3 linked regions of the Homo sapiens genome follow. The protein of the gene in region 3 interacts with the protein of the main gene of each other region in a biochemical or structural test. Each region holds a gene or a part of one and is shown on either strand. Other genes may lie near its edges. The genes, in order: CAMK4, BORCS8-MEF2B and CABIN1.

Region 1 (10,515 bases), on a different chromosome or scaffold from region 3:
AAGAAGGCATCCTCTGTGAGGAAGCAGGCACTCATAGATACCAAACCTGCAGGACTGTTCTTGGACTTGTGCCAGAAATGTCAGAAATAAATTGTGATAAGCCACCCAGTTTATGGTATTTTATTATAGCAGCCTGAATGGTAGTGAGAGCACTGGACTAGGAGCTGGGCAACCCTGGTCTATTCCTTCTTCAGCCACTGTGACCTTAGGTAAGCCATTACCTCTCTTGGGCATAATAGCTCTCTTTAATAAAGTGAGCTTATTGGATTAAATGATTACTAATATCCTCTTTTAACTCTAGTGATTTTATAATTTTACTCAACAGAAAATATGTGAGCACTCAGTGTTAAAAAAAAGGCTATGAAACTCAAAGTATAATTTTATCTGAGAGAATGGGAAAACACTCAAGGAGTGATTCAACTGCACATTTCAGGTGTAAGAAAAATGTCCATGGTGTCTCTCTTGAATTGTGGTAACATTTGAAATCACAGAATGCAAAGTTTTGGTGGTTTCTTAAATGATTTATTATCGTATTCTACATGCCAACTGCTTTACATTTCCCAGCAGCAAGATATAGGCTTCTTTGGGCATGTTCTGACATGTCTGTCTGAGTGAACTTACACCAAGTAACATTGGCCCTCAGGTCAAATTTCTACAATTAGTCTTCCAACACCCATTTTTTATAATGTCACGTACTCTTCAAGTTCCTAGAAAACACCCCCCAACCCCCCCCAAAATTTACATATTTAATTACTGAATTGGGTTATCCAACCTGAATCCAAGAAGAAGCCACAGCTCTCATGTGGTCTGCCTCAGGCTTTGGGCAGCTGAGACAGCCCATGACTGTTGTGTCCCATCTGTAAGAAGTAGAAACTCACTGGTCAGTCACCACCATTGAAGAATACTGTAGCTCTACAACAGCAAATGGGCATGATTTTGATGAATTCTCTACAAACATTTTCTGTATGTACATTTATGCCCAGGCCAGACTTAATACATTTACCTAAAAATATTGTAATATATCTTTGTATTAAGTAGTCAATAGCACCATATTGTCAGGTTTTAAAAATGAAGTGTTCACAGCTCCATTTTCAGTGCTCTTCAAATTAGAAGTTGGGAAGGTAGCCTATAATCTTGGTTGTGTAAACTTAAAATATTTATACTTTGTCCTCCAAATCTTACATGCTCTTGTGTTTGGCTACTGACTTGCAGCCTAAACTATTGGAGATGTAGCTTTCCTGTATGCAGTGCTGTTCCATTAATCTAATCCTCTATGCTGCTATTGAGCTGCTTATATCCTTTTAGTCCAGAAAGCTTTCAGCAACCCAGGAATAAAAATTTCTCCTTTAGGAAAGACTAGAAAACACATCCAGATAATGTCACATAAGCCTGAAAAGCCCAAGTAGGAAGTTTTCCTTTCTCAATGTCTGCTAACTTACGATTTTTGTAACCTCACAGTAATTCTACTTCTCTTCCATCATTCAAATGACAGTCAATCTTGCTCCCTATCTTCCTTCATTTGTCTTCAGGAATAATGCCGCCATTCACTAATCACAGGCATTATCTGAAATAAAGAGGCAAGACAACTAAAAGTACACATACTAAATGTCTAAATGTCTCCCAAGTTTCTTGAAGATGGATGTAAAAATACTGCCTGCAATAAATGATATCAAAAGGAACTTACAAAACAGTATGTAAAGGGACAAAAGGGAGAGATGAAAAAGGACTTGACAGGAGCAGGTTGATGTTTGGAGAAACAAGTTCTGATGGTTTTAAATTTTGTTGCCTGAGACTTAGCTTCCTACAGGTTGTCTTTTAAAATCTAAACTTTCAGGTAGAATTCAATCAGAAATCCTGGGGGATTGCCTATTCAGGTCAAATAACTGAAAAGGTTGAAAAAATGAGGTCAGCAATAACCTTGATTCGGTCCTCCACTGGCAACATTTTAGGAAGTACGTGATTTTTTGGAGTCATGAGACATTTTTCAGAAATTGGAGTCTTGGAAAACTTGAAATTATCTGTCATACTATCATTTACTCTGTTTTGTCAGTGGAGACCTGGCCAATTCAGTTTTTGCTTTCAGTGACTGAGGCTTTGCTTTAACCTGGTGACTCCCAAAAATATCTTCGATGTGTTTGATGATTTTTATTTGGCTTAGAAGCACAGCAGATGAGCCAAGTATGTCAGGCTAGATGCTCTGAGGAAAGGCTGCACATGGACCTACCCAGAGTAAGGAAGGAGTAAGGAAGTCTAATTCAATTTTGCACGAGATGAGATTCTGTTGCACACTGGCAACACTTCCCTGTGTATTTCAGCCTTTCACATTTAGTATTCTTCCTTCACCTCTGCCTTTCATTTTTCCACTCTATGATCAGGCCGGTTCTCAGCCAGACATGCCCCCTACTTCTTCCCTACCTGCAAAGATTCACCCATCTTTCACATACAGCCTGTGTTTCCATAAAGCTTTCCTTCATCATTCCTGGCAAAAGGGAGCTTTTCCCTCTTTCCATTCCTAGGGCTTATCATCTGCCTAAATGCAGCATAGGTTATATATGTACAGGTTGTATCTATAAGGTTGGCTTTTCTCTCCAACTACAAAGCTCACTCCTGGAGGATAGCATTGGATTTAATTCATCTTTGACTCCTCCATGGCATATAATAGTTTCTCAGTGAAAGTTCACAGGGAAAATTGTTCCTGGAGGGGGCTGCTCCTGGGAAGCTTCAAAATTAGAAAATCACTTCCTTACAATGTGATTAGAATGTAGGCCTAATATCCCCTAAACTATGTTGTTTAGTTTCTGGGAGAAACATTAGCTATTGACTTCATTCATTTCTAAAGTATTTGTCCATCAATGATCGTCTTCAAACTGAGCAATCAAGAAGATGGGCAGGGGAGAATGTGGAATCCTAATCTACATTTTGTTATCTTTCCCCTCACTCATTCCAGTAAAGTCTCTGCTACACATAATGATGCGGACTGGCAGAAGATTGATATCTTTTGTTCTGAGTTCTACAGCGAGTGTATCCTAGTGGCTATATTATATTATTGATTGCTGTAATAATAGAGCAATAATATTGCTGTATATTATTTAGAGTTATAATTTTAGGTACTCCTAATAAATTGATATTGCACTTTCTACTAAATATTTCATTTGTGACCTTTTGGTTACAGATGTTGAAAGTCAAACGGAAACACAAAGGTCATGAATGCCTATGTTTTTCTCCATATCTCGGTCACTAGCTTCCCTTAAGGTGGATATTTTGGAATGAACAATTTCTCTGTGACAGAAATAGACTAAGACAAGGGCCCTTCTTGGATTTCTAAATATGTAAGGAAAGCAAACGAAAGCATTTACTCAAGGCCCTCTCTTTTCAAAGAAATAAAATACGTAACACTCAGGAAAGCGTGGGGATTAGAAAATGGCTTTCTTACATAAAAGAGCTGGCTGTTTGCGTATTCCCTGAGCTATTGTTGAGAAAGTCATTGTCATATAATGCCACAAAATAAAACATAATATTTCCTAAAATGATTAATGAAAATTCAATTGATATAAATTACTTCAGAATATTATGAGAGATTCAGAACCATAGGGATCTTCTTATTTCTTAGCTTAGTAAGTAACAGCTGTAGATTGACTTAAATGTGAGCAAATGCCAGTGAAAGATGTCATTTACATAATTTTAAATGTAAGGATCAAATTTCTAAAACATGCTCAAAGTGCTAGAAATCTTTTTAATTCTACTCTCAACCAACTCAATTCATACTCTAAATTTCTTTTCTTCAGGAGTGATGCAATTTTGCGTTTTTAGTTCTGTAGGAAAATTTCACTAAGTTGTATCTATCTCCAGCACAATTATTGTTGTGAGAGCATCTGCAACATAAAACAAAATTTTCCTAACTTTCTCAGAAGCAAATGGGAATACGAACCTTAAGCTAAGGAGAAAAAAAAAAAAACAAACTGGAATATAGGAATCTGTATTCCTGCAAGTCACCAAAAAGGCATTGGGGTGCCATGAAAACCCAGGGTCATTGTTTTACTGTAAGGGTCCAGATACACATTTTAGGCTTTGCAGTCCATATGGTCTCTGTTGAAAGTACTCAACTCTGCCTTGACAACATAAAAGCAGCCACAAACAATATGTACATAAATGAGCATGCCTGTGTTCCAATAAAAATGGGGCTTTGGTAGATTTGCTCTGTGAATCATTGGTTGCTTGAGTTCTGAAAAATTTTTGGAGATTTGAGTTCAGTTCTTGGGGAATTATGTGGAAATTACTCTTTAAAAAAATATGCACATAAGTTTTAATGTGTGTATCTCAAAGACGAGAGATAAAATGAATGACTGACATTCAAGTAAGAGCATAAATAACTAATTTGTTTACTAATAATCTTTTACTGATACCTTTAGTTCATTGGGCATAAGAAATCACCTAAACCCCAACTCAGCTGTACCCACTCACTAAACTCACAAGACATTGAAAAATGTTGAAAGAAACACAGCAACATCTGTTGGACATGGAATGGACTACTATTACTATGTTTAGGCCTAACTCCTTAATAAATGGATATGTTACAACGTTCTTTTGGCTTATAGAGGACTTTTAAAATATTACTGAGACTTAAGGGTGCCGTAAAAAGAAAAACAAAATTACAAATTATGAATATGCTATTTGTTCTCTACGCTGCTGCATATTAACTGTATTGTAGGTATATAAAATAGGTCAGGTTAAAAGGAGGCAGTATGAGATGATAGTTTTCAATTTATGGTCATATATATATATTTTTTTTTGACGGAGTTTCGCTCTTGTTGTCCAGGCTGGAGTGCAGTGGCATGATCTTGGCTCACTGCAACCTCTGCCTCCCGGGTTCAAGAGATTCTCCTGCCTCAGCCTCCTGAGTAGCTGAGATTACAGGAGCGTGCCACCATGCCCAGCTAATTTTTGTATTAGGGGTTTCACCACGTTGGCCAGGCTGGTCTCAAACTCCTGACCTCAGGTGATCTGCCAACCTCGGCCTCCCAAAGTGTTGGGATTACAGGCATGAACTATCACGCCCAGCCTATAGTTATGCTTAACTGTACCTTTACAAAACAGATGAACTGCTCTACATCTATCAAGGAAAGGACAAACCTAGTAACTTTTTATCATTCACAAACTGTCAAAGTTGAGAGAGAGCTCAGGGAAAACAACCGCTTTCAAAAATTAGAATGCAAGGTCTTGTATTTAAGTAGCCTGAAATAATCTTTTAAATGGAAAATAAAGATTAATCAGAGTGAAAATTAAATGTTATTTTGACACAATGAATCACAAGCAACGATTAAATGTATATATTCTGTATCTATATGTTTTCCAGGTCAATCTTCAAAATGAGCTGAAAACAACTGTTTAGAATAGTGTGATTTTGCAGTCTTTGCATTGCTGTTTAGAGTATCAAACAAAATTCTGGGCCACAGATACGCTGCATTTCTCCAGTCTGGGATGCTCCTGTCAGGGCTTTAGAGATGACCATAGGGATGGAACAAAACACTGATCTGGGATAAGGCATAGCAAACCAAGACAAGAAAAGAGTAACCCACTGGTGGAATCTCATTTTTCCATTACTGACCAATGACAATATACCAATATTCAAATTGTATCACTTTCAATCAGAGGATGAGAAGAGGTTTTCTCCCACTTGCCTCATTTGAGCTCAACCAGGTAGATGCCTGGAGTCTTCTCTAGAGCAACATCTGATTCCTTTGAAGGAGTAAGACAGTTCACTTTCTCGGCAAGGCTTCTATTTTGCCCTGGTGGACCTCTGAACCAGACAACAGGGAACAGACTGAGTTCTTGAAGGAAGTTAGTATCACACAACCCAATCGTCTTGAGTACATCACAGAGCATTTATGAAAGTTGGAATTTTAAATAACCAAACAAATTAATCAAGTTTGTTATTGCTCTCCAAGATAAGTATAGACATGGCCAAGCTTTATGAGCTGAGATTATATTATCTGATCTCAGGTAATAGCCACAAGGAGTAATAATGACAAAATTTGCTCTTAATATATTGGTCAAAATATAGAAAGAGGAAATACTGAACTTGGTTACTGTGGGTGGTTTGCTGATATCTCTCCAGTGGTCTCTCTCCTTTTTTTTCTTATTTGCCAAGGAGACAAAAATTCACCCTGAGTGTGTCAGGGGAATAAAAGGACTTTGAAAAATTTTATAGGAAATTATTGGGTACATTTCTGTTTATCATGTGGTTATGAATATTGTAATACCAATAGTGAAATAACATGTACACAATTTTTTTAAATGCAGACACACATAACATCTAACCATTAAACAATGTTCAACCAGTAAATGCTCAACTACTAGCAATGACCCTGATCAGGAACATATCAGTGATGAACATAAGGAAATCAGAATATGGACTAATAGGCAGGAATTACAAGGAAATTACAAATCCTTTTACATAGGTTACTATCTGGAAATTTTGCACCATCTAAAGTAAATCTAGACAACATGACTGAATACTTTGCAATGACAAATAAGTGACATAATGGCACTATGATTAATTGACTCTGCTATGTATATTTGTTAATTATACATTGAGTCAACCATCAAGAAAATGCTAGTGCTGATTCACTTTGTTGACCTTTTTTTAAAAAAATTTGCTTTGCAAAAACAATTCTAAAACAAAATAAATGGCTTACTAAGTTTATCCTTTGCCTTTTCTGGCATTTACTTTTCTTTTTCCAACTTGAAATACAACCAGCTGCTTCTGTGCAATAAAAACTGATTTATGAAACAAAATGGCTCTCTCCAAATCTTCAGCCTGTAGGCAACCCACCATCAGTTACCATGCATGTGAAACAGGACATAGGGATTGCTAAACATTCTGAATTACAAAATATGTTTAAAATACTATGAAATTGAAGTCACAGTAAAAATTGTTCCTTTCTTTTTAAGTCTTCCACTAAAAATGACTATAGAACCTTGAGGATTATTCTAAAATCAGTATGTAAAAAATTTTCAAAAGTCTTTTGTTAAATCCATGTGTAATGGCAGTGTTGATTAAACCCTTCTAAGGAAATCTTAAAAAATGCCAGCTAATGGTCATATTCCCACTTTGAGGATAACTGGCATGATATCACCATCATTACACAATCTTCATCATGCAGATTTGGTATGGTTCATTAGATTTCCAGAAAGACATATTGCCTGTGATACAAGGATGGCATGAAGCTTAATCCAGGCCTCAAAATCAGATTCTATGTGCAGTTCTTCCTGAATGAAGACACATAGTTGGCTGAGAGTAGATTTTGGTAAGCAAGAATGCTATTGGCATCATGGCAGTACTCAGGAGACTCTAGGCTGTAGTCAAGACTCCAGGGCCCATCAGGAATCAGAGGGATTGGTCAGTAGATAATTTAGTAATGCCCGTTCTTTGAAGTCATGTTAGGAATCATTTCTCCTCTGAAGTAAATGAATGGGCAGGAGTGGTCAATAAGCTTTTACTCAGTGTGTAACATTTCTGAAACACTTTCTTTGTGGCCTCCCACCAGCTCCTCAATGTGAAAACTGAGGCCACTTAAATCTAAGCATAGAACTTCAAGTGTCACTTTGCTTAAAATAAAAAGTACTCTAGACTAGTGCTGTCTAATATGGTAGCCACTAGCCACATGTGACTATTGAGCACTTGATGTCCCAAAGGCCTAACATACACTCTTGATTTTGAAAACAGTATAAAAATAAAGAATTCAAAATATCACATTAAATTTTAATATTGACTATATATCGATAGAATAATTTGGATGAATTGGATTAAAAATACTATACTTTCATCTATTTTTCTTAAAATGTGACTAATAGAAAATCTTAAATGACATGTGCTTGCATTATATTTATATAATGCACTTGTTCTGGACAATTAACTTCTACCACGATATTATTCTAATTTTTACCTATTTATGTGTCCTGGGACAAGTGAAATTACAGTTTGAGAAAAAATACTGGATTCCAATTAGACTTTGTTAATGGGGGAAATAATTCAAGACTGTCCTTCATGGTTATAAAAAAAAACCTAGTTTATGCTATGTAGCTGAACTTATCTCAAAATAAAAACCCATAATGTAATGTGATAAGTGTTAGCTCTAAAATGTAAAATGTAATTTATTGTTTGCTGAAATTTGAATTCTTTTGCTTTGTGACTATATTGCCAATTAGGAGTGATGTTATGAAGTATTTTGTGAAATTAAATCTCCATTTGTCTACTATTATTTAGCTAAGTAATCTTTGAGATAGACAATACATTCCATTTTAACAAGCAATATAAACATTGGCTGTTCTTTCAAAAATGTTAACATAATTATCCTAACTTAGGATGTATGTATATGAAATCTTTGAATAATTTGACTGAAATGACCAACATTTTTGAAAGTTTGATTTGTTTCCTACTGAAACAATGAAATTAGTCACTATATAGTCATTATCAGAATCTTATCTTTAACATGAGTCAAAATTTAAAACTCCCATTGATTTTTTTAAAAATGTAGTTTATGGGTTTAAAAAGATAGAGGGAATTATCAACTCGAGTACTCACATGGAGGAATGGTAATATGCACTCATTTAAATGAGTAAATTCTAAAATACACATTGGGCATGGTATTTGCAACGTTGTTTCTATAGTTCTCAGGGCCAAACAATGCAGTCCGCCCTACTCTAGTGTTGAAATAATGTAACAACTGCCCTTGGAACAATATGGGGGTGGGCAGGGAGGAATGATGTGTTCTGATCTTTCAGCTAAGCGCCAAGTGCCACTTTCTAAAAAGACCCCCTTCCCTCTCTTTGCTCTTCCAACACGTGTGTGTGTGTGTGTGTGTGTGTGTGTGTGTGTGTGTGTGTTTCAGTCTCATGGTAAAAAGTACAACAGGAAATTGATCCTCTTAAATGGAAATCTTAATGCTTAACAAAGAAGACATTCTTAAAGGTTAAAAATAGCGAGCCCCTTATAATGGACAACATGGGAATTCTGAGAGGGAATAATTAAATGAGGAAGGAAGGAAAGAGGGAATAAGAAAAGTGCTCTCTACTAGATAGTACAAATAAAACAAAACAAAAAATAATCTTCTGAGCCCAGATGATGTGCTTCTTCAGGGGCTCCATATCAGTGACCTGTCAGATTCTTAAACTATGAAAGATAAGAAGTCCTACCTTGTTTTCTTCCCATGAGAACAGTAGTAGAGAGAGATTTGTGATTGAAAAGAAGAATGTCTACTGAGGTCCAACAGCCTCTACAAACTGGAGCTTTAGTTTCGTTTTCTAATTTAATAGTTTTGAGGGAGAGCCAACATAATTTAAGATCTCTTTTTTAACAAGGATTTTTATGTGATAGTCATTTTTATTGTCTTTATTTGGTCTCTGAAAATAATTATTTTTTAAAATGAATTCTTTTTTAAAATTGAGAAAACCCACCAAAAATGTGACACATAATTAATCTGATAAAATATTCATTTCAACTCAAACTAGAAATAAATTGGAGATAGTGCAATTTCTATAAGGGGAAAGTGTTTCTATGAAAGTCAAAGAGAAATTAAACTTATTCTGGGAAAAATCATAATAAAATATCAGGTCTAATGTTCCAGCTTTTTAAGAGTCTGATTTGAAATCAGTATTTTTCTTTATTTTTGTTTTTGTTTGTTTTTTAAGGTAAATAAATTGCATTGTGCTAAATTTATTGGCAGCCACATTCTCAACACTACATTGTAAAATGTGGGTACTTTCATTCCAAATACGAGAAAAAGACATACTAGCTTTTCATAAATAACTTTAGTTTATAAGTGATATGTGTAGATAACCATCAATTGGATAAAAAAAGAGCTTTGATAAACAATAATGTTTTCTTACTCTATTAAAGTCAATAATGAATAATCTTAAAATGGAATATTATTCCTACTCTATGAAGACATTTTGGCACTAACCTGTGAAATAGAATTTTCTAAATATTTGCAACTTGGTAATTATAGAGTTTATCCATTAAAATGTTCTTATCTGTAAAGTTGTATAAATTCATGAGTAAATACAATTTTATCTGGAAAATGAAAAGGAATCAATCTTATCTTCATCAGTTTAAGTACAGTCTTACCTTCTTTTCTTCCCTGTTTATTACACCCTAAGCTTTGTCTATCAGAAAGTCATCTTATTGGAGAGCAGGTGAAGGAAAGAATGGAACTCAGCGTGAGTTTGTAAATTACTTCCTCCAGGGTTGTAAAATGGCAGAATCTTAGAACATTTTGGTTATTATTAATATAGTGTATATAAATAAGAATAAAATAAAGCATTCTCCACACAGGCTTTAGGGACATATGGCTTCATGGCCTTTAAGGATACTTCAATTTCTTACCATTGCAAGTGGATTTTTTTTTGCACATATGTACAACTATCATCTATAAGCATCTCCTTGTAAACAGTTTGAACACATCAATGATAAAAAGTAAAATGTTGTAAAAGTTATGGGAACATGTCTTTTAGCAC
Region 2 (6,843 bases), on a different chromosome or scaffold from region 3:
AAATCCTCATTACAGGGTCTGTTTCAACAACGGCATTCCCAGCCAGCCAGCAGGGCCCGCCTTTCCTGTCCCATTCTTGGGCAGATCCTGATGGTTCCAGTCTCACCTGTTCTATTATACCACACTGCCCGCACCGGTCCAGGCACAGCGAGGCACGGCCATCTCCTGCCTGGATGCCAGATCCACCTTCTCCCTGGCCTCTCTGCTTCCCCTGCTGCCAACAGTTCAACCTCCATGCAGCACGTGAGGCAAACTCCAAATGAACAAATCATCTATTCCCACCCTTGCTTTAAACTCTTCCATAGCTCCCACCTGCCAGAGAATAAAATCCGCCTTTCTTGCCCTGCATGTTCTGGCTGCTCTTGACCTCCCTGCCTTCCTTGCCCTCCACCCCTGGCTCTTCCTTGGACCTCCCAGCACTGCCCAGAACTTTCTCACTGCCCGAGAGGACAAGGTAGGAGGATCACTTGAGGATAAGAATTTGAGACCAACGCCGGGTGCGGTGGCTCACGCCTGTAATCCCAGCACTTTGGCAGGAGGATGGATTCAGCCTAGGAGTTCAAGACCAGCCTGGGAGACATGGCGAAACCCCACCTCTATAAAAAATTGCAAAAATAAGCTGGTCATGGTGATCTATACCTGTAGTCCCAGCTACTCAGGAGGCTGAGGTGGGAGGACTGCTTGGGTCTGACAAGTGGAGGCTGCAGTGAGCCATGATCATACCACTGCACTCCAGTCTGGGCAAAAGAGTGAGACTCTGTCCCAAAAAAAAAAAAATTAAATGCCCGTATGTGACCAGTTGCTCCTTTATTCATTACAGCAGAGCTCTAAACACTTGGTCACCTCAAGGCCTTTGCACTTGGTATTCCCACCTGGAGACACCATTCCGTCACTGGCTCTCCTTCATCCCTCAGGTCTGCTCAAATGTCACCTCCTGGGCAAGACCCTCCCTGACTACCAAGCTTAAAAGATGACCCCTCCACCTCACGGAGGACCTTGGCAGGCATTTTGTTCCTTTCTCTTAATACCAATTTCAACTGATTAGGTTACATGTTCACAGGAAAAGTTAAAAGCTTGGACTTGGGAGAGCAGAGCTTCTCTGAGCCTCAGCTTCCTCATCCACAAAAAAAGAATAACAGCACCAGCCTCAAAGTTTGCTACAGAGATGAATCCAATGCCATCACCAGGGTGACTGCTCAGGAGAGAGAACCCAGGCGTGTCTGGGAGTCAAAGGAGGCTAACACAAGTCTCTCCATCTCACCACTGTGCCTTGAGTGGCAGAGCCCAGCCTGCCACCTCCAAACTGTGTGACCTCTTACCAGATAGGCCTCCTCGCTTTGAATGTGAGCATAACGGCCAGGGGCGGTGGCCCACGCCTGTAATTCCAGAACTTTGGGAGGCCGAAGCGGGAGGATCACCTGAGGTTGGGAGTTCGACACCAGCCTGACCAACGTGGAGAAACCCCGTTTCTACTGAAAATACAAAATTAGCCAGGCATGGTGGTGCATGCCTGTAATCCCAGCTATTCGGGAGGCTGAGGCAGGAGAAACACTTGAACCCGGGAGGCGGAGGTTGCCGTGAGCCATGATCACGCCATTGCACTCCAGCCTTGGCAACAAGAGCAAAACTCCGTCTCAAATAAAAAAAAAGAAGAAGAAAGGTGAGCATAACAGACAAGGCACGGTGGCTCATGCCTCATACTCATGCCCTCCGTTATCCATGGTTCCCGAATCTGTGGATTCAACCAACCGTGGATGGAAAATAGGAAAAAAAAAATTCCACAAAGTTTCAAAAAGCAAAACTTCAATCTGCCCTACACGAAGCACTTCTTTGAATCCATGTGAATGAAGTGATGTGTAGGCCTGTATTATGTATTCTAGATGTGAGTAATCTAGGGTGATTTAAAGTATAGGGGATTAGCTGGGTGCAGTGGTTCACACCTGTAATCCCAGCACTTTGGGAGGCCAAGGTGGGTGGATCACTCGAGGTCAGGAGTTCGAGACTAGCCTGAGCAACAAGGTGAAACCCCGTCTCTACTAAAAATACAAAAAAATTAGCTGGGCATGGGGGTGTGTGCCTGTAATCCTAGCTACTCAGGGGGCTGAGGTTGCAGTGAGCTGAGATCCCCCCACGGCACTCCAGCCTGGGTGACAGAGCGAGACTCCGTCAAAAAAAAAAAAAATTAAAGAATTAGCCTGATGTGGTGGTGTGCACTTGTAGTCCCAGCTACTGGAGAAGCTGAGGCAAGAGGATCGCCCGCGCCAGAGAGATCGAGGCTACAGTGAGCCATGATCGCGCCACCGCACCCCAGCCTGGGCGACAGTGTGATACCTTGTCTCAAAAAAAAAAAAAAAAAAGGAAACAAGACGCACAGCGATTACTACGCCCCGGGGATTCTTCCAATGCATTACAAATATCAGGTTGTTGAGTTTTTTTTTTTTAGACAGGGTCTCACTTGTCACCCAGGCTGGGGGTGCAGTGGCACGACCGTAGCCCACTGCAGTGCAGCCTTGACCTCCCGGGCTCAAGCAATCCTCCCACCTTAGCCGCCCAAGTAGCTGGGACCACAGGCGTGCGCCACCACGCCCGGCTAATTTTTGTATTTTTTTAGAGACGAGATCTCACTATGTCACCTAGGCTGGTCTCGGGCTCAAGCGATCCTCCCGCCTAGGCCTCCCAAAGTGCTGGGATTACAAAGCCACCACTCCCAGCCTCAGCTACTGAATTCTTGAAACAATCCTGGGGGGACCGGTAATTAAAGCAGACACGGAGCCTTTCTACAGGTTTCAAAACTAGTCAGCGGCAGAGCTGGGATTGGACGGCAGTTCAATCACTGCTCCTCGCACGGTCCCTCCGCGCCCGGCCTTTGTCAGGCCGCCCCTCCACAAGTTACCGGCCCCCTCTGTCCCGCCCGCAGGCCCGCACCACCTTTCTTCCCCTTGAGCTGCATCTCCGGCTCCTCCATAGCGACCGCGGCCGAGCGAACCGGGAAACGGCACCGGAAGCCCGGAGGTTGGGACGCCCGCCTAAGCCTTCCCTGCTGAAACCGGACGCCGCACGGCTCCTGTTCCGGTGTCAGAGGGCCCGCCCTCCCCGCTCCTCAGTCTTTGCGGACAAGAAAGGGGCTGTGTGAGACGCAGGGAAGGAGGCACACCCGGGGGTGGCGCAGTGAGGAGGGGGCGCGACGGCCAGGAGGCTGGTGGAGCGACACCCAGGCAGGAGAGGGGGAAGAACTCTCTCCCTTTCTGAACCCCCTTTTCCTTGAGAGACGAGTTGGGGGAGTCCTCCACGCATTACCCACTCGGGCCGCAAAAACTCCCTTCTTTAGCCCTCTGCCCCCGCCCTTGCTTATAAGCCTTTGAGACCGCAGAAGGGACCTTGTTGTGGAACGGGACGGCCAAGGTACGCTGCCCCTTTAAGTTCCAGACGCCCCGCGTACTTCCCCTACTTCTTCTTCTTGAGATAGCCCCGCCCATCTACCCGAAGCCGGAGCCAATTGGCTCCCTCTGGAAAAATCTGTGGGCAGGGTAAAGGTGAGCGGGCGCAGGCGTAGTGAAATTCTCAGAGCCCTTTAGGCCCCGCCCATTCCCTCCGAGTCGGTGAGGAGGGGAAAAGAAGGCGCAGGCGCAACTGCCCTCCCAGGACCCCAGCGGAACCCACGCCCTCCCCTAAGTCTTAAAGGGCCAGAGGCAGCACTTACTGCCCGGGCCCTTCCTCACTTTTGGGGGGCGGGGGTGCGCAAGCGCAGTGGGGGAGCTCTGGGGTGGGGGTAGCGGTCGAGTATCAAGTTGCTTTCTGTCCCGGCAGAGGAAGCCAGATCGCTGAGGGTCCGGTCTCCAGTTTGCCTCCTGCTATATCCATTGGAAGAGAAAAGTTTGTGACTTGGGCCCCCAAGTTTTGAGAGAACTGGGCTTTCGGCGCGGGGGGACAGAGGAGGCTCGTGGGGAGGTGAGTGGACCTCCTGGATCGATTTAGGAGGCTCGGGTGGGACTGGGACCAATCGCACCTTTGTTGAGCCGTCACTCATTATGGGGAGCCCCTCCCAACAACCATAGCGAATATTTATTGAGCTCCACGCTTAGCAGATCCCCCGATAAGCTATGTACAGACATAATTCGTTGTAGGTCTCATTTCCACATTTTGTCGTGGAGGAAACTGAGGCTCAAAGGTTAAGTCACGTGCCCAAGTTCTCACGGCCTATAAATTGAGGGATTCGAACCCAGACAGCTGACCCCAGAGCCCCGGCTTTTTTTTCCTTTCTTTTTTTTTTTTTTTTTTTTTTTTGAGACAGAGTCTTGCTCTGTCGCCCCAGCTACAGTGCAGTGGTGCGATCTCTGCTCACCGCAACCTCCACCTCCCGAGTTCAAGCAATTCTGCCTCAGCCTCCCGAGTAGCTGGGATCACAGGCGCCCGCCACCGCGCTTGGCTAATTTTTGTATTTTTAGTACAGATGGGGTTTCACCATGGTGGCCAGCCTGGTCTCGAACTCCTGACCTCATGATCCACCCTCCTCGGCCTCCCAAAGTGCTGGGATTACAGCCGTGAGCCACTGTGCCCTGCCAGAGCCCAGGCTCTTAAACATTGCACATTGTAGGTGCTTTGGTGGTGGGGAATGGTAGACCTCGAAAGCAGTTGGACTCTGGTTTTCATTTCCCTGGCTCTGGTAATTAACCTGGACCTCAGTTTACCCACCCTCACAGTGCAAGGCTAGGTATGCAGTCGGTGCCTACTTTATTATAACTGTTGATAATTATTGTCATCTCTCCCCTTCTGACACCTCCGCCAGCTTTCCCCATGGAGCTTACCCAGCCTGCAGAAGACCTCATCCAGACCCAGCAGACCCCTGCCTCAGAACTTGGGGACCCTGAAGACCCCGGAGAGGAGGCTGCAGATGGCTCAGACACTGTGGTCCTCAGTCTCTTTCCCTGCACCCCTGAGCCTGTGAATCCTGAACCGGATGCCAGTGTTTCCTCTCCACAGGGTAGGATACCTCCTCTGGGATTAGCCCTCTGGGATTCCATGATGATGGAATGTCAGGCCTCACATGGAACCTGTGTCTTGCTTTCGTTTTTGTTTTGTTTTGTTTTGTTGTTTTTTGAGATGGAGTTTTGCTCTTGTTGCCCATGCTGGAGTGCAATGGCGTGATCTCAGCTCACTGCAACCTCTGCCTCCTGGGTTCAACTGATTCTCCTGTCTCAGCCTCCTGAGTAGCTGGGATTACAGGCTTCCGCCACTACGCCCAGCTAATTTTTTGGGTATTTTTAGTAGAGACGGGGTTTCACCATGTTGGCCAGGCTGGTCTTGAACTCCTGACCTCAGGTGATCCGCCCACCTCGGCCTCCCAAAGTGCTGGGATTACAGGCATGAGCCACTGTGCCCGGCCTGTTTTTGTTTTTTGATACAGGGTCTCGCTCTGTTACTAAGGCTGGAGTGCAGTGATGCAATCATAGTTCACTGCAGCCTCAACTTCCTGGGCTGAAGCCATCACTCAGCCTCCCTAGGAGCTGGGACTATAGGCATGCAACCACACCTGGCTAATTTTTTTTTTTTTTTTGGGAGGCTGGTCTCCACCTCCTGGGCTCAAGTGATCTGCAGGCCTCCACTTCCGAAAGTGCTGGGATTACAGGTGTGAGCCACAGTGCCCGGCCCTTCACACCTGTTTTTAACTCTTTGAGGGTAGATAGCTAGGAGTGAAATTACTGGGTCAGATGGTCATCCTGTTTTACTTACTGAGGAACTGAGGATTTATTTTTGATTGGAGTCCAAGAATATGCCTAATTTAGTTCCCTCCCACGACCTTTGTTGCTGCCACTCCTGTCTGGAATGCTCTTCCTACACTTCTTCCTATAGCTGACTCCCCTCCCCTCCCTCCCTTCCCGCCTCCGTTTTTTTTTTCTTTCTTTCTTTCTTTTTTTGAGATGGAGTCTCGCTCTGTCGCCCAGGCTGGAGTGCATGGAGTGCAGTGGCGCAATCTTGGCTCACTGCAAGCTCCACCTCCCGTGTTCACGCCATTCTCCTGCTTCAGCCTCCCGAGTAGCTGGGACTACAGTCCGTTTTTTTTTTTTTTTTTAAATGGAGGTTTGCTTTTGTTGCCCAGGCTCCCTCCCCTCCCCTCGCCTCCCCTCCCCTCCTTTCCCCTCTCCCCACTCTCGAGACGCCTCCTGGATCCCCTCTCTTCTTGAGACAGAATCTTGCTCTGTTGTCCAGGGTGGAGTGCAGTGGCACTATCTTGACTCACTGCAACTCCCTCTCCTGGGTTAAGGTGATTCTCCTGCCTCAGCCTCCCAAGTAGCTGGCATGCACCACCACATCCAGCTAATTTTTGTGTTTTTAGTAGAGATGGAGTTTTGCCATGTTGCCCAGGCTGGTCTCGAACTCCTGACCTCAGGTGATTGCCCGCCTCGGCCTCCCAAAGTGCTGGGATTACAGGCGTGAGCCACCGCGCCCAGTCCCTGTAGCGGATTTCTTTGACTTCCTAAGATCTCGGTGGTGTCACCTTGGGGAGGCCCTCCTGTTACCACCTTGTCTAAGAAGGACTTATTCCTTGTGCTCCGTTCTTTTCATCCTCTTCTACCTGCTTTTAAATTTTTTTTTTTTTTTTTTTTTTTGAGATGGAGTCTCACTCTTGTTGCCCAGGCTGGAGTGCAGTGGCGTGATCTCTCTCACTGCAACCTCCACCTCCTGGATTCAAGCGATTCTCCTGCCTCAGCCTCCCGAGTAGCTGGGATTACAGGCATCTGCCACCATGCATGGCTAATTTTGTGTTTTTAGTAGAGGTGGAATTTCACCATGTTAGTCAGGCTGGTCTCAAACTCCTGACCTCAGGTGATCCACCCACCTCAG
Region 3 (10,515 bases):
CTGAGGGGCGGGAGCTATGGGCTCTGATGGCAGGAAATGGCCTCCAAGATTGGGCTTAAGGGAGGAGAGAACCAGAGGATGGCAGCTAGCCCCTACAGTGGCATCTTCTCTGGGCCCAGGGTAAGAATCCTAGGTAGGAAACGCAAATCTGCCCACGGCAGATACCAAGGCGCCCCCACCGCACCAGGGTCTGGGAAGCAGGCAGGTAGGTCTGAGGGTCATTAGGGCCTCCTCCCTGCCACTCCCCTCCACAAACTGGGAGGAGACTGCTGGGGCCTGGCCTGGCGTCGCCCAGCAGCAGGCAACCTGAAAGGTAAGGACCTGGGTCCCCTGGCTCTGGCCACCCCCATAACCCAGGCTGTGTCTTCCGAGGTCTCTGACGGAAATCTCTGCTCACCCAGCCCTCAGGGGCCCCAATATGCATGTGCCTCGGCAAAATGGGGTCTGGCCCAGCCCTGGCTCCTGCCAACTCAGTAGCCCTTTCTTCTCACGCTACAGTGTGGGGTTGTGGGGGGGTTTCCTGTGTGGGTCTATCTTTTAAGGACGTCAAAAGCAGAAACAGCCCTCCTATCTCCTGAGTGATCACCACTCCCATGTCCACCTGCTCCACCTGGGCCAGTGGAGGAGGCAGGGGCACCCTGGTGGACCTGGGCCTGGGCCTGCGCCCAGCACTGGGGCCCAGACAGCTGTGCTATGCACTCTGCCTAGCTGGACAATGAAATGGTGGGGACTGCTGGGGGTTGGGGCACTCCCTGTCAAGGACTCTGGCCCTTAGCTGGGGACCAGGCCCACCTACTCCCCACAGCATGCCTCGTCTGGCCCACAGCCTGCTTGGTCAAAGCTGAACCTCGAGGGCTTCCGCAGACGTAATAGCCCAGGCAGGTGGTGGGGGCCTGAGGCTCCATTCCACTGAGAAGGAAGCCCGTCTGGACCCCAAAGGCAGCTACCAGCCCTCTGCTAGGGGACCTGGAACAAAGGGACCTGGGACGAGGCTACCGGGGGCATCGGGACACCCCTGGGGACAAAAGACTGCACCTACTCAAATGGCATGCCACCTACCCTCTGGCTTGGAGGCTTATGTTTTAGACAGGGCACACCTGCTCTCTCTGCCTGCCATGTCTGCCCCTCCCTGCCACATCCTCTTGTTGAATTCTGATCCCAGCCCTCCCACCTCTAGCTTGGGGTCCTCCCAGGAGGGGCCTCCCCAACTCCCTACTCCCTGCCATATCTTGGACCCCGCCCCCCCCTCCCCAGCCCTGGCCTGGACCTTGCACTAACCCCATCTTCCCTACTCAGGAGTGTTGCTGCCTTGCTTCCTCCCTGCTTAATAAACTCCAGGACTCCTGCCTACCCTGTCTTAGGACACCTTGCTCCCTACAAGTCCTCCCCTGGGGCGGTGGGGCGGGGGGCAGTCCCTGTATAGGCTGCATCTCCACCTTCCCCTGCCACCTGGCTCCTAACCAGACTGGCTCTAACATTGCTGCTTCTACTTCTGTTCCAAACGGAATGACCTTCCCAGTTGAGGTCAGCTGGCTAGGGGCCATCCTCCTTGTTACAGAAAAGGTGGCTGAGGTGAGGGGACCCCTCAGCATGTCTGAACTGGGGTCTGGGCCGTCAAGTTCCTGCCCACTATGGCCACGTGCTGGAGGCTCAGCTGCCCCCTGCTCATCTCCCCTCAGCCCAAGCTGACCACAAGAACAGTCCCAAGAGTGGATCTGCTTCTCAGCCTGCATCCTAGGGCCTTGATATGGAGCAGGCTCCGCAAGATGAGGCTGGCACAGGCTAAATTGGGCTTACCTGTCTCTGGGCGGCAGCCCCAAGATGGACCTGGCAGAACTTCACAGCCTGCTCCAGCGCAGCCTCCTCATCCACCTTAACAGGGAGATGCTGGAAGTCAGGGGGCGCAGGCCATTGTGGTTAGCCTCCCCCAGCCCTGTCTGTGTATGTAGCACAGACCAGCCTAGGTAGGGGGCATGCCCTGTGGCTCGGGTGCCCCCCAACACCCCAGACTCTGCTGAATAGCCAGCCGTCCCCACTGCTGTCCGCATCTAGACCCCTACGTCCCAGCTCTTCGTGGGTAGCAGGGGCAGATGCCCATCCATCTCCCAGGTGGGGGTGCCTGCTCAGGTGCCACACCACCAGGTACTGGTGCCAGAATTGGACCCAGCTGTTCCTCTGAGCCCATCTGGCTATACCAAGTTCATTTCTATGGCTGAGTTACTTACATCCTCACAAGCTGAGGCTGGCAGGCAGACTCAAGGGCTCCAACCAAGCCTTCAAATTCAGCTGAGGCTCAGTTGCTAGGGGAAGAGGGGAGTCTTCTGAGCTAGAACCTGCCCTTTAAGTGGGCAGGATGGAGGGCCATGATTAGAGTGGGAGAGGCCTTTCGGAATCCCAGGCCTGATGGTGATAGCCCCATGCTGTGTCAAGTGTGTCTAGGGATTCAGTGCCCAAGGTCCATATGATATGGGGCAGTTGGGGGTAGGATGCATTGCAAACTGACATGATTAGAGGGAATACTGTATGTCAGGGATGGTCATCCCATCTGAACCAGTCACTAAAGTTTTGGAGATTCTTCCTATGGGAATAATTTTAAATGGAGAAAAAGGAAAGTGCTTGATACATTAAAATAAAATGTTTAAAAAAAGAAGGCAAAATGACAAGGGGATCTCTGGTCACTGCAGCCATCTTTAGATGACAGCCACAGAAGTCTTGAAGGAAATGCCCTAAGATGTACCCAGAGGCCCAGCGCAGCGGTGGGAGCAGCGGTCCAGACTCCCCGCGCTGGTTGTGATAAGGTTTCTGTGACGGGCTCTCACTTCCTTCCAGGTTGAATATTGACTTTTTAAAGCTCATTGCAGAAAGTGAACAGCAGGGATGGTGTGGGAACAACACCTAAAACCCGCCCCAAGGGCAGGCCTGGGAGACCCTCCTTGAGGATAGAAAGGCAAGAGTGGGGATGCTGCCAGCAGACTAGTGCCCCCAGGCCTCTGCCTGCCACCCACCTGCTTGATGAGCATGTAGGTCTCCGACATGATCCTCTCCACACGGCCCAGGTCATAGGCCACACCCTTCTGGCCCTGCTGCCACACACGGTAGGCATCCAACAGAAGTGTCTTGCCTGACTCTGTGTCCTCCAGGAGCTTCCTCTTGCGGCTGAGCCGGGAGAGCGGCTCCTCCGGGTGGCCCCCTGCCCTGGTCCCTGTGGTGGTGGCGGGGGCGGGGGCGGGGGCTGGCTGGGCTGGGGTGAGCGGGGTGGGCTGCTGCCGGGCACTGATGCTCAGCTCCTCCAGGGACAGCTCAGTGGGCCGGCTCTCGGGGCCCCGGTCCCTTGCGGGGCGACCTGGCAGCAGGGGTGGTGTCCGCTCCAAGTCTGAGTGGCAAACAGTGGCCTCACTCGTGTCCATGGGCTCAGTGGGCCCTGCCCGTGGGCTCTCTTTATCCTTCCGCTCCCCGCTTTGGTCTGCACTGTCTCCTGCATCCATGGCCACAGGCCGGTGGTTGAGGAGGCCCACTTTGCCTCCTGGCTCGGGCCCTGGCCCTGAGCCATCAGCCAGAGGGGGCTTCTTCGGCTGGGGGAGGCCCTCCTGGCCATCCTCAGGACTGGCCTTGTGTGAGACATCGGTGGTCATCCTGGCTCCGGGGAGGCCACAGACCTTGGGCCCTGGGCGTTCTGACCCCTACAAAGAAACCAAAGGTAAGAAGCTGTGTCGCTGGTGTCTCCACTGCAATGAGTCACCTCTGGGGGCTGGTGAGCCCAACCTGGGCCTCTCCCACCTGACATCTGTGTGGCTCCGGACATCTGCCAGCTGGCCAGGGCTGTGTTTCAGTTATCAGAGAAGGACACTGGGCCCAGAGACCTGCCTGAGAAAGGCCTTCCCTCCTCTGCACCTCTGGCTACCCCACCACACTCTTCCAGGTAGCAAGGGGCTGACGGGACTCTGGAGGTGGCACTGCTCCTGAATAACAGGCCTGGGCTGAGCTGGGGCAGCATTGCCCAGCTCCCCTTTGACTCCATGACGTGAACTCCGGGCAGCTCTGGGCATTTTATGGGAGGGGACCTGCCCAGGGCCACCAAGCATGTTTGCTGCAGAGCCAAGTCTTCCTGGCCCTTAATGCACGAGGCCTGGGGTTGGGGGCTGGCAAGGACTCCTCCCCAACAGCCTCAAGTTGATGCCCTCTACCAAGCCACAGCCAGCCCTACCAGGCATAAGCTTTGGAGGCAGTCCTGGCTCAACTCCCAACAGCCCCACCTCGTAGGCTGGCTGCTTAACCTCCCTGGCCTCCTCCAGGTGCTCAGCTGTGAGAAGGAGGTACTGCTGCACCTGCCTCAAGGCTGAAAAGGGACGATGCACACACATGGTGTTCTCATAGGCCTTGGTCAGCCTGCCAGGGAGAGGGCTTGGGACCCCGCCCTGGGTGGTGCAGCCCTTGGGGAGCTCAGTTTCATGGAGTCACTATGGCTCTTACTAATCACCAAGTGCATCCATGACTCACTGAATTCATGTGCATTCATTACCACGGCTGACCTTCCCTGCCTAGGAAGACAGGATGGGTGCTACCTCACAGATGGGGACCCTTAGGCACATCCTGCCTAAGGGTATGCAAATAGAGGGATCGGGCCCACCACCTGGGAAGGGCTTGGAAGCGTGTTCATGGGCCGTGGAGGAGAGGAGGACACAGGTGGCATACCTCTGCGAGCTCGCTCAGCGTGTCTTCGAGCACCTTCACAGTGAGGATGAAGGCCCGCTGCGCCAGGACCTGGCGGTCAGCATCTCGCAGATACTTCCTGCGGTCATACAGGGGTAGTCAGAGAGGACAGGAGGGCATCTGACACCACATGGCACTGCTGGATGGTGGCCACTGCCCATCCCTGCCTTGAGGATGCCTGTTTGTTCCTCAGTGTTCCACCTAACCACCTGTTTGGGGCTGCTCCCCTAGAAGCTTCCCCTGAGCTCCCTCTATCCAGAGCCAGTAGGCCTCTGACCCGGCACCAGCCTGTTGCCCTTAGGCCCTCTGCAGTGGGCCCACCCTGTGTGCTGTGCTCAGCAGCCTATAGCTGCTCCCTCAGGTCTGGCTCCAGGGTGCCCCAGGCCCCAGCTGGAGGCCCCTGAACTCCTGGCACATCGCCTGGCAAGTGGTAGGTGAGTGAGACAGCCAGAGGGTGAGACAGTGCAGGCATGGGAGGAGGCCCAGTCCAGCTGACGGAGTGAGGCCTCCAGGCCAGGCCCATCTACATCTGAGCTGCGTCTCTTCCAGGATCCCCCCAACACCCCCTGTAAATGGCAGCTGTAACAGATGGCTCTGTTATCTGTCCTGCCCTTTCTGGCGGAGAGCTCCCTGTTTACCACTGAGGCCCAGGCACCCCTGTCGCTCACCCCACTGTTACTGGCCTTTGTCTGGGGAACCACAGCTATCTTCTGAACATCTGTTTTCCCTACAACCTGACAGCACCCCGAGAGCCCTGAGTTGGGGGAAGCAGGAGGAAAGGAAAGGCTGGGTAGTCCAGAGTCTCAACGTGGAACCAGGATCAGTGGGGACAGGCTGTGTCTGCCCTAGGGTGCCTGGGGGTGGGAAGTGTTGTTTAGGTTCTAGACACTGGGACAGAGAGGCCCCCAAGGAGAATGAAGAGCTGGTCCAGGCTCCCAGCCAGTGGTCCTCACAGCTGGGCCAGAGCAGTGGAGAGGCTTCCTGGGGTGTGTGTGCCCCTGACCCACACAGCATGCCAGGCTGTGTCCAGGGTGGCTGCACTCACTTGCCCTGGTCTGGGGTCCGCTGAAGCATGGAGGACACCTTCAGCAGGGTGCTGTGGTCCCGCAGCTGGGCCAGCACCTTGAGCAGCAGCACGATGGAGCGGTTCATGTGCCAGGCAAAGCTGCCCGGCCGGTCAATCTCGTCCACGGGGATCCGCCAGATGCCCTGTGGGATGGATGGCACAGGTGTGTGAGGGGGGTGGTTGTGGCAGGAGCCTCGGGGACACCCTGTCTGGTATCCCCTGGAAACTGCCACAGTGCCAAAGGGGACACTGCCCAGCCAGGGGCTTCTTGGACCCCTCTCACTGTCCCAAGGAGACAGAAGTGTATCCCCACCCCCTTCCTTCTCATGAGTGGCAGCAAATGACAGACAGACCCACTGCTCTGCAGCCTCCTCTTTTGTATGGCTGCATCTCATATGTTTGCTGGACCTGTCCCCTATGGGATGCACTCAGGTGGGGCCTGATCAAACGTGAGGACAGACAGTGAGAGGCCCAGTGTGTACACCTCCCTGCACAGGTGCTTACCCAGCCACCAGACCATTTGTTAGAGGTGGAACTGCTGAGTCAAAGCAGGCTGCAGGGAAGCTCTGGCTAGGCTCTGCCCTCACCCACTCTCTCCAGCAGTGCCCAGAGAATCATCTGCAGCTCCTGGGATGCCTGGGGTCCCCCTCCCTCTTCCCACTTCTTGCCATCCTACCCCACTCCTCTTTGAAGGCTTAACCAGGGCAAAGTTGACTTTGGGGAGCACCCCCCATTATCTCCCTTGGTCCTTGCTTTACCTGCTGCAGCACTGGGCACCCCCTACCTATCACTAGCTCCAGGGCCTGGTTCCCTGCAGTGTCCTAGTGACCAGCATGGCATCTGACACCTACTCGGGGTCCAGGCAGGGTGTGGGGAAAGCAGGGAGTGAGTGATGAGGAAACAGGCATTAAGGAGGCCCATCTCTGGGGTGGGACCTCAGGGGCCTGGAATAAGTGAACTGGCTCCTAGATGGGTCCCTGCAGCCAACACGCTGAAGAAACTGCTGCCCAGAATGGACCAAGGTTATGAGTGACATTGCTTTCTCCTTGGCATGGGGCCTGGCCCACATCATGCTGCAGTATAGGATTCTGGGGACTTGGGCCCCCAGCTACAGGGACCACTGCAGGATGTCTAGGTGGTACCCCTCTCAGGGCCCTGTCCCTGTGGGTCCTTGCTGATTATCCACAGTATCTGTACACAGGTGTGGGCCCACCCTGCTCTAGCAGCCCTGGGAGGAAAGCCAGGGCACCTCCAGCCCTGAGCTGTTAAGGCCTGAGAGGAGTTTAAAACTCGCAGCCTTGAGACCCTGTGGCCTCTACACTGGCTCCTGTTGTGACATGGAGGGTCCACCTGCAGGCTGGGGGACTATGTGGAGGCCAGCAGCCACCTTCTACTTCCTGGCAGTGCCTGAAAAGGACAAAACCAGGGTACTGAGGCTATCCACATCCAGGGCAGCAAACATCAATGCTGCATCTTCCTACCATGCAGATGTGGATCCTGAAGCAGCTTATGAAAAGACACCTGCTTTCCAACAGACAGGGTCTATCTACAGTAGGCACCAGAATGGGCAGACACTGTCTCCTGGGTCTCCATCCGCTGTGCTGCAGCAGTACGTCCCGCTGAAGACCCTCCCATCCCTGCACCTCCCAGGGCACATAGACACCAACAGACACACCCGTGAGGACGGGTCTAGTTTGCATCACACACACCAGCACAGTTTGGATCCCTATCTCCTTTCCGTTTCCTTTTGTAACATAACACTGCTGATTTCAGAAAGGATGGAAGACCAAACAAATCAGGCAGTGAGTCCATGGAAAATCAGAAGGGAACCATAGACACCGCCGCCCGCTTGGCCACCCCCATGCTATTGTGACTCTCAAAACTTCCCCAGCCAGCCCTGAGAGGCTTGAAAGGCAGCATTTTACATTTGCATGTGCTCTGGTTTCATTCTGGCATCTTGCTTGGCCTTTTTCTGGTAACAGTGTGCTGAAGGGCACGTTTCCCGGGCAGGGTCAGGCCAGCTAGTGTGCCCTTGTTCATCTCTTTACTGTATCTTCATTCACATGCCCCAGTATGGGGGCTCCTATGTTTATTTACCTTGCACTGGGCACTATTCCCAGAAGCCCCTTCTGTTGTGGGCTTGTCCTTTCCCTGCCCCCAGGATTGGCCCCCTTGCCTGCTCGGCCAGGCCTAAGACCCACCACCAGCCATGGGAATTCAGCCAGCAGATGGGCCCCAGGATCCCAGTCAGGCTTCCCCTCCTAATGAGAGCCTTTAGGAATAACCCCTCTTCTCTGTGGCCTGGGGCGGTGTGCAGATGGACATACCTCCCGAACGGTGAGGGGACTTCCTATGGCCATGAGGCTGGCCTCCAGAGAAAGCTGGTCTGAAGAGTGAAGCCACCAGGCAGAGTCACGAGCCAGCAGGGTGGTAGCAAGCCAACTGGCTTTCTGCCTACACCAGGTGGAGCTGGGCTTCTGTGTTTGCAGCAAGAGACCCATGAGAAGGATGATACTGGCAGCCCCAGGATGACCTGGACACAGCGGTTCCCCACAGAGGGGCAGTAGCCACAGCAGCCCTCTCCCTCCACTGTCCCTCTAACACCGGGCCTGTGGAGGGCTATGAAGCTCCTAGAGAACCAAGGTGCTGAGGAGGGTCTCCTGGAGTGGGACAGGTACAAGGGACAGCCCCTGCTTCACCTGGTTTTCCTCACCACGGCCCACACAGGAGGAAGGGGCATGGCCAGGTTCCAACTGCCACAGCAGAAGCCCCACTGCATTCAGCCCAGGGACTCACGTTCGGGCCTCAGGGAGGGTGTGGAGAATGTGCCAGGGGTGAGCTTGGATAAAGCTAAGTCAGGGCCAGAAAAGAAGGGCATAGGCAGCAGTGACCAAGAGGCCTGGCTGAGGGCAGGTGGAGGGAGCCAGCACCAGGCCAACACCCCCACGGCATCTGAGGGAAAGGCAGAGGCAGGATCATAGATGGGCAGGGGCCATAAGTAGCAGCTGAGAGAAGCAGGGTCGCCGCGAGGAGGGTCTCCTCTGGCCCTCTCCTAGTTCTCCCTCAGCCCTGGGTCCCGCTGCTCTGGCCGTACCCCTTGCCTCGCCTCTCCCAGTTCCACAGGCACACTTGCTGTCTTCAGATTTGCCCCACTTGATTCCTGGGCCCTGGTGTCACCAGGGCTGGGTTCCCTGATGGCCACAGTGGCTGGGATAATGCTTGCTTATAGAGTTGAGGGCAGCTGGGGGTGCACACCAATAGCCTCAGAGGACTTAAAGACACTGAGATTGTGCTTGAGGCTTCCCCTCCATGCCAAGCATCTCTTTCCAGGCATCTCAGTCAATCCCCCAACCCTTCAGAACGGCTCTAGGCTCCTCACTGGCAGATGAGGTCACAGAGAGAGATTTTAACAATCTGAATAATTTATGAAGCCCCAGACTCTAAGCTGAGTGCCTGATACAAGTTACCAAACCCTGCCTACAGCCTTAAGACTTTGGTGGTCTTCCCTCTGCTCTTGAGGAAACAGAGCCTCAAACACTGAGTCCCATGGTAGAGTGAGCCTAGGGGTCCACAGAGGGAGGGCATGACTGCTATGATTTGGGAACCCACGAAGACTTTCCTGGGGGAACTGAGAGCTGGTTAAGTGGAGGTGGTAGGATGCTGCCGGGCCAGCCTGTGCTCTTGCCCTGTCCATTTATGAGGGGGCTGGGAAGCAGGGTGAAGTGCCTGGGGGCAGGAGGGCTGTGCAGTCTTGGCAGGTGGCACCACTTCGAGGTGACAAGTGTCCCTGAAGTTATAGAACACTGCTATTCCCGGCCAACAGGCCAAGGCCATGCCCAGGCCCATGGCTCATGGCTCATGCTGTCTCCAGCACACTGTGGTCTCAGGGGAGCTTACTCCTGGAGGGGCAGGGGCTCTCTTTTCTGCCAGACACAGCCTTTCACTCAGCCAGGGCCAACCCGGGGCTCGACAGCCTGATGCCACAAATTCAAACACTGTTCTGATTCTCATTGTAAACCCCACTGCTGGCTGCTGGGTCACTGCTTGGGCCATTTTTAGTGGCACAGCCCAAGGCTGTTCTGAGGCTCCCTGAGCTGAGGGTTCCCAGCTCTATCTGTCACCTTGGCGGACCCCACCTTTCAGTCATGACTCCTTCTAGAGCTTCCTCCACTTCTAGGGCACAGGCAAAGGCTCTTCAGGAAATCAAGTGCCCCTGGAAATTCCAAGGCAAGAAAGAAGGGTAAGCAAGAGGAGCAGGCCAGTCAGAACAGTACTCAGACCCAAGGCACGAGCTTGTCACAGAGTGGACGAGGGTCAGGTGTGGGCTGAGTAGGGACATAGAGATTCATCCTATGTCTACACTGGGAGGGACAACCTGAGTATGTAATCAACTCACCCCTCATTTTCCAGAGAGGGAAACTGAGTTCAGGTGACCTGCCAAGGCTGCCTAGTGATGCAAAGTGGGACAGGACCCAGGGGCCAGACTCGCCCACCTCAAGTCTCTTCCTACACCCCTGCTTAACACTCAGAGGAACAAGAAATTGGCAGCCTCCCTGTTTTACAGATGTAGAAATGGAAGCATGGAGAATGCAGTGATGCCAGTTCACCTCGGTTTTGAAAAGGTGCCTCTTAAGACTTGCAAAGGCCCATTGCAGGGGCAGGCTGCCACTGGAATGCCTGCCTGTGGACGGGGTGGCTGGCAGGTGGCCAGTGTCTTCCACCAGCACCATGGGTGCCTC

Evidence for each region.
Region 1: of the proteins of CABIN1 (region 3) and CAMK4, one has a biochemical effect on the other in vitro, tested with the Homo sapiens proteins (one study listed by BioGRID).
Region 2: the proteins of CABIN1 (region 3) and BORCS8-MEF2B are reported together in a solved structure, tested with the Homo sapiens proteins (one study listed by BioGRID).

The regions. Positions count from the first base shown.
Region 1 is NC_000005.10:111,484,872-111,495,386, reverse strand, and holds the end of CAMK4 (calcium/calmodulin-dependent protein kinase type IV), read right to left. Parts: 3' UTR 501-10,515; downstream 1-500. UniProt on the Homo sapiens protein: Calcium/calmodulin-dependent protein kinase that operates in the calcium-triggered CaMKK-CaMK4 signaling cascade and regulates, mainly by phosphorylation, the activity of several transcription activators, such as CREB1, MEF2D, JUN and RORA, which play pivotal roles in immune response, inflammation, and memory consolidation.
Region 2 is NC_000019.10:19,189,153-19,195,995, forward strand, and holds the start of BORCS8-MEF2B (myocyte-specific enhancer factor 2B), read right to left. Parts: upstream 3,001-6,843; 5' UTR 2,966-3,000; coding exon of another isoform or gene 2,929-2,965; intron 1-2,928. Other genes in the region: BORCS8 (BLOC-1-related complex subunit 8), read right to left, coding at 2,929-2,965; DNA-binding protein RFXANK, read left to right, coding at 4,795-4,981. UniProt on the Homo sapiens protein: Transcriptional activator which binds specifically to the MEF2 element, 5'-YTA[AT](4)TAR-3', found in numerous muscle-specific genes. Activates transcription via this element. May be involved in muscle-specific and/or growth factor-related transcription.
Region 3 is NC_000022.11:24,159,804-24,170,318, reverse strand, and holds part of CABIN1 (calcineurin-binding protein cabin-1), read right to left. Parts: intron 5,920-10,515; coding exon 5,756-5,919; intron 4,790-5,755; coding exon 4,693-4,789; intron 3,681-4,692; coding exon 3,006-3,680; intron 1,888-3,005; coding exon of another isoform or gene 1,873-1,887; coding exon 1,798-1,872; intron 1-1,797. UniProt on the Homo sapiens protein: May be required for replication-independent chromatin assembly. May serve as a negative regulator of T-cell receptor (TCR) signaling via inhibition of calcineurin. Inhibition of activated calcineurin is dependent on both PKC and calcium signals.